2 separate regions of the Homo sapiens genome follow, and region 2 is linked to region 1. The links come from fine-mapping of genetic effects on gene expression. A gene starts in region 1. The other region holds a variant in brackets. All regions are shown on one strand. Distances are between the middles of the regions.

Region 1 (2,806 bases):
TATTACTGATAATTAACGTCCTTGTGGTGACTTGCTCATCATACTGCCTCTATTGTCTCAGCCAGAATAAGCCTTAAAAAGGAAATGAAAGCAGAGGTATGGAGTGGAAAGAACACTGGACTAGCAGTAGAGAGAATCTCAATTTCATTTTCAGCTCCACTACAGATGTGCTGTGGGACTTGAACAGGTCGGTCCCCTTCCTATCATTTTTTACATCTGTGGAGCGAAGGGGTTAGATGAGAGGCCTAAGGCCCTTTTCAGGACTCTTAACTCTGTGTTGTAGGAAGCCAATGATCGGCAAAATGGTGCTGAACCCCCTACTGGCTTGAACAGTACGAACTCTTGCCTCAAATGGCTGGTCTGAGAGTTTCAGCCACTGGGAACAGTTCTCTTTCCCTTTGGATGGGACTCTTGAACCTAGGCCAGGACTCAGAGGTCCCAAATGAAAACAGCCCCAGTCATTCCATAACAAAGGGAAAGGCACCCAGAGCCAGCGAGGAGATGAGTCTGGGAAGCTGTATTTCACTGTCACAACTGAAAAATCTTCCATGCACCCAGCCTCCCCCTAGCCACCCCAAATCTCAGGGGGAAGCCACCCCTCATCCAAAGTTACCCTTCTCACAAGTAAATCAGCAACTCCCCTGAAAAACAAAAAGTGCTTGGTCTACACTATCTCCAAAACTCAGGACCTTCTAACACCACTACTAAATGTCTAAAAACTTAGCTCTCCTGCTCTGCCTTCTTCATCCTGAAACTAACTCTGCAATCGGCCTGTCTTGCCTGCCAACAATTTCAACTCTGCTAACACTGTTTATTGTATCTTGCAGCTGCTATAGATTCATTTATTTTGCTTCAGGCTTCTTTGGTTATTACTGCTCTTTATTCTTCCCTTCATAGCATAAATCCAGACCCCCAAAAACATGGGATCTGATTTCTCGAGTCTGTGGTGCCTCATTACGTTCCCTTCCTTGTCTGACTTAAAACGCCCTTCTGTTTCCTTTTTAAAACTTTTCCTGAAACACCAAAAGAAGTATATGCGGAGCTTTCATTTTCAAAAAAGAAAAAATAATAAAGAAAAAAGACCCACATAACTTACTTTCATCCAGGGGTGCACAGTTTTGGAAAGAAGAAAACAGAGCTATAATCCACTGCGTTTCCCCAACCCAAAAAGAAGAATTTGTTGTGAAACGCTTCTTTTTCCACTTTGCTGGTGAAGGAGCCCGGTGGTAGGCATACATCCACAGGCTGATGCAAGATGCCTTTGAGAGAAACCTCACATTCTGAGGATTCCTGGGAAAGCGCCAGGGATCCCAGCATCCAATATATTGCACATTTGGTTTCAATTAGGAAGGGGGTTGGGGAGGGAAGAAGGAAAGTCACCAATCAGAGCTGTTTTCTGTTTGGAGACTATTTCTTTTGACCCAAGGGACTATGGGCAAAGCTATAATTTACAGCAAAACCCATTCATAGAAGAAAAAATATGTATAACCATAGGACAGACTTAAAGACACCGCTCCCTTCTGCCTTATTCCCACCCATATCCATCTCCACTTCCTTCCCCTCCATCTAAGACTTGATCCCCTTCCTGTGATCCCCACCCCCCCGCCGCCTACCCCACACCTCATTTTTCTTACTTGAGCTGAAGCTATAAGCAAAACTTAAAGTTTGGAGTTTTCCAATTGAAGCTTCCAGGACAGTTGGGGCACACACGCGGAGCTGACCTTTAGTATTTTGACCATGAAAGCCTAGAGCTGAGCTCTCCCCCGAAAGATTTGATTTAATCCCTTCCCACCACGGCTCCCCCCACCAAGAAAACAACTGGAAACTGCCAGAATCCAGGATTCCTATTTTTTTCCACTCAATTCCCAGTTGGCTGCTGCCTCTGAGGGTCTGTTGCTGTCCTGGATTCATGCTGCTAAATGAAAACACAAGCATTTATAAGGACTTTCTAAATTATTTTGTGAACTTTTTTTTCCCTCCTTTATCTTCTCCCCGCTTCCACAGCTATAGTCAGAGATCATGTGAAAGGGGCGGGTAGGCAACAGGGGAGGAGCCTTCACTCCACTCTCCAAACGATAACTAATAACCCTCTCCATCCATCCAGGCTCCAGCCTTAACCCTTCAGAGCCTGGATCATTCCTGACCAAGCCCACGCTGGGCTGTTCTGGAGGTCCTGATTCTCCGTGAGTATGGAGAATGCAGGGCAAGCAGGGACCCAGGGGCAGGAGATCCAAAGAGAGAGGTAGATGGCAAAAGGCAGGTCAAGAAGACCGAGCTTACCTTTGAGAGCCAGACTTCTTGTAAAGAGACCTCCTTTCTCTGAGCTCTGGAGCTATCACCAGCTCTTCTCTGTTTGTAGTTAATCTGGGATTGCACAGTCTCCAAGATGAGCAAGAAAAGAAGTGAGCAAACAGGAAAGGGAGGATGGAAAGAGATCATGGAGGAACGTTCCCATAGTAAGTTAGGGGCAGGAGATGTTTCATAAGGGGAATGGAAAAGCGCACACACACACACACACACACACACACACACACACACACACACAATGAGGGTGGCCATGAAACTGAGAGCTAGTGTTGAGTCAGTGTTAAGTCCCTAAAAGTCTCATAAGCTCAGCACCAGTCTGAGGGTCAGAAAGCAGCCGTTAACATCTGTGCCTCACAGCTGTTACAGAAAAGGACACGGAGAACATGGGAATGGTTCAGAGGGCAGCCATGGAAATGATTAAAGGCAGCAAGCAAGACCTTAGAGAAAAAACTAGAACTAGGGTTAGTTTATGAAGAGAAAAGACACTGCAGAGATCAAC
Region 2 (2,806 bases), 150 kb before region 1:
ATACAAACAGTGAGACATGTCCAGAGGCCAAATTAGAAAACCACCTGTGATTAGTTGCTGAATTCTGAGTCCTCAGATTCTCCACATCTATCAAGTGTTTTCCCTAAACTTAATCTCATGTTTCCCAAGACATTAGTATTCTTCAAGTTTTTCTTTCTGAAGATTCTTTTAGAATGACATGGAAAAATATTGTAGAATCTGCACATTTATAAGCACAAGTATAGTTAACCTTTATAAATTATCTGAATTTTCTAGCCTTTGTTATCCAACACTTTGGTATATCAAAGATTTTCTTTTACTAGATTGTATCTGCCCTAGGCTTTTTTTTTTCCTTTTTTAGTTCTTTAATGTAAAAAAAAAAAAAAGTGTATATGAGTCAGGGGTAGGGAGTGGGGGTGACCAGGAAAAGAGGGCAAAGCAAACAAGCCTCTGTCTCTCAGTTTCATTAAATGTCCAGATGGAGTGGCATAGGCATGGGTGAGTGGTAGGTCTTGTAGGGAGGACCTGAGCCGTAGGAACATGGCCAGGCACTGACAGCATCACTCGTCGCCTTGTTGAAGGAGCAGAAGGTGGATTTCTTGGAATGAGGGACGGTTCTTCGTATCTCTTCTCCAGCAGCTGAGCATCAGCTTATACACAGAGTCAGGACAAATGGCTGGTTGAGGGAGGTAAGTCTTTGGGAACAAAAATAAAGGAAAACAAAAGAGAGAGAGAGAGAGAATATTACAAAGACGGGGGAAAGGGAAGTATCTTTGCATCATGGTTTGATTTGCCCCCTGCCCACTTTCTTGAACTTGATAACTGAAATGGGTGTAGTGTCCATTTTTCCTACTCGTGAAAGTTCTGAATCATATCAGCCCTTTTCTAAGCTGTTCCATTTGTCTTCTGCAGTTGTCTGCAGCAGAATTTTTTGATGGGCCATTATGTGGTCCCTACCTTCATGCAAAAGATGAAACAACCAAAAAGAGACCAAATCTTCCATTTATGGGCAACCCATATTGAAGTTCATCTTGGCTGAGCCGATCATGGCAGAGGCAGAAAACAACATTTTTCTTTGGCCCACTCACTTATCTCATGTACTCAGGAGTAAATTTTCCTTTGACTATAGTAAGAAGGCAAATTGCCTCATAACCAAGATAGCTAATTTAGACTCCCTGCTGCCAAAATATTTACAGAGTATCAAGATACAATTAAATTCTCAGACCCCTCTCTTATTTTTAATATGCATAATGTATTATCTCTTGTCAATACCTTATCTATCTTTGGCTTGCTTGGATCTGTTCAAGCCACAGAAGATCCACTTTTTATTGTCTGCAAGATCCTTCCCCCAGCTATTATCCTTTTCCTGGTAAAGATACCATAATCCAAGGGTATGCTGTTGCCAGGCCCCTTTGGGGAAGTGCGGTGCTGTAGTTACTGGCAAGCTTTAAATTCCAGATCTCACAGGAATTTTAAATCTAAGCCACCCAAAAAAAA[G/AG]CTTGGAGTATCTTGGCTAGGAATTGAGACTCCTGGGGAGCTTGGGAACTCATCTTTCCCTGAGTCCTGAGATGTCACAATACTGGGCCCAGAGATGCCTTCCAAGAGCAACAAGTTTAGGATATATCTGCCCATTTTCAGACATCCAAGTCTAGAAACATTGCTAGATAGTCAAAACCAACCCCATTTCTTATACTAAGCTATATTTTTAATGAATGCTAATACATCCCTTTTACACTTTTATTTTTTGACCCAGAAGAAAAACCACATGGTCTAGATCAAGAAATAGATAAATCATGAGAGATAGGACTTTGTTTCCTGCTACCTTTGAGCTGGGGAGAAACCTGACATGACCCTTTATGCTCTCCAAGAGTCAATGAGTTGACACATAGATAAAGCAAAGTGTATGGATGCCTGGGGAGGATACTGGTCTTTCACATCATCTGGATAGTTAGTGACAAAGACTAACACCTGGATAGTCTGTCTTCCATCTCGGCCCACTCCTGCTAAGGCAGGACTTGCCATTCTCCATCCTTCAAGGTACACAGGTCCACATCCATTCATCCCCAACAGTTCTTACCTGCCTCCCTTGGTCTCGGAAGAACTCTCCAGTATTCTCAATAACCTGTTCATCTGACAGCTGGGAATAGGGCTGTTCTTGACAAAAGGTGAAAGTCTCCCACAAAGTAACCCCAAAGGCCCACACATCACTTGCTGTAGTGAACTTGCCCTATTTAAGTAAAGAAAAGAATGGGAAATCAGAATAACCTGTGCACAACAACACCCTGTTAAATTTCATAATCTGCAGCTATACCCCTTCCCCCACCACAGGCAAGGAATTCTGAAAATGCCAAGATGTGCATGGAGTATTTAGAAACAGCCCATTCTTTCATTCTCATGATCTCAGCTTGGTTCTGTTTCTCTGGGGATGAGATCCAAGAGCTGAAAAAAACGCAGCCATAAGCTATTTGACTCTGCAACTGAGTGTTAGGTCAACCTTTCAACTCTAGGGTAGCCTTGGGAAAATGCTCCTGAGAAAGGCAAAATCTGAATGGGAAGTCAATGGTTTTTATGTTAGAGATAGAGGAATCTAGTTTAAGTGCCTGCAGTGAATCCAGGACTCTCATTTACCAGTTCAGTGATAATCACAGTGTTGAAAGATAGACTTTAACAAGTGACAGCAATGAGATTCAGGTGTAAATAGCATGCATTGACTACTCACATTTTCTACTCAATACAGACAACCACACTGTGAAGTGGATGATATTATTTATTATTAAATATTTTTTCCTTTGAGAAATGGGGTCTCATTATGTTGCCCAGCCTGGAG

Alleles and levels. Alleles are on the strand shown, and positions count from the first base shown. SD is a standard deviation of normalised expression in the study named.
In carriers of allele G in region 2, the expression in cerebral cortex of the gene that starts at base 1,264 in region 1 tends to be higher than with AG alone (moderate effect, 0.58 SD a copy in GTEx).

The links. PIP is the estimated chance that this variant, and not a neighbour inherited with it, causes the effect.
Region 2: its variant is fine-mapped to the expression of DDR2 in cerebral cortex (GTEx, PIP 0.96).

What each region holds. Positions count from the first base shown.
Region 1 is chr1:162,630,922-162,633,727 of GRCh38, reverse strand. DDR2 (discoidin domain receptor tyrosine kinase 2) reads right to left here and starts at 1,264. Exons shown (of 18, transcript NM_006182.4): 1 at 1,097-1,264. RefSeq lists an enhancer at 2,417-2,516.
Region 2 is chr1:162,777,980-162,780,785 of GRCh38, reverse strand. It overlaps DDR2 (discoidin domain receptor tyrosine kinase 2), which reads right to left. Exons shown (of 18, transcript NM_006182.4): 17 at 2,057-2,206; 18 at 1-674. The coding sequence ends at 540. It also overlaps the pseudogene RN7SL861P. Among named protein-coding and RNA genes, the nearest start is that of HSD17B7, 11 kb to the left of the region's middle. The variant G/AG (reference allele first, on the strand shown) is at 1,477.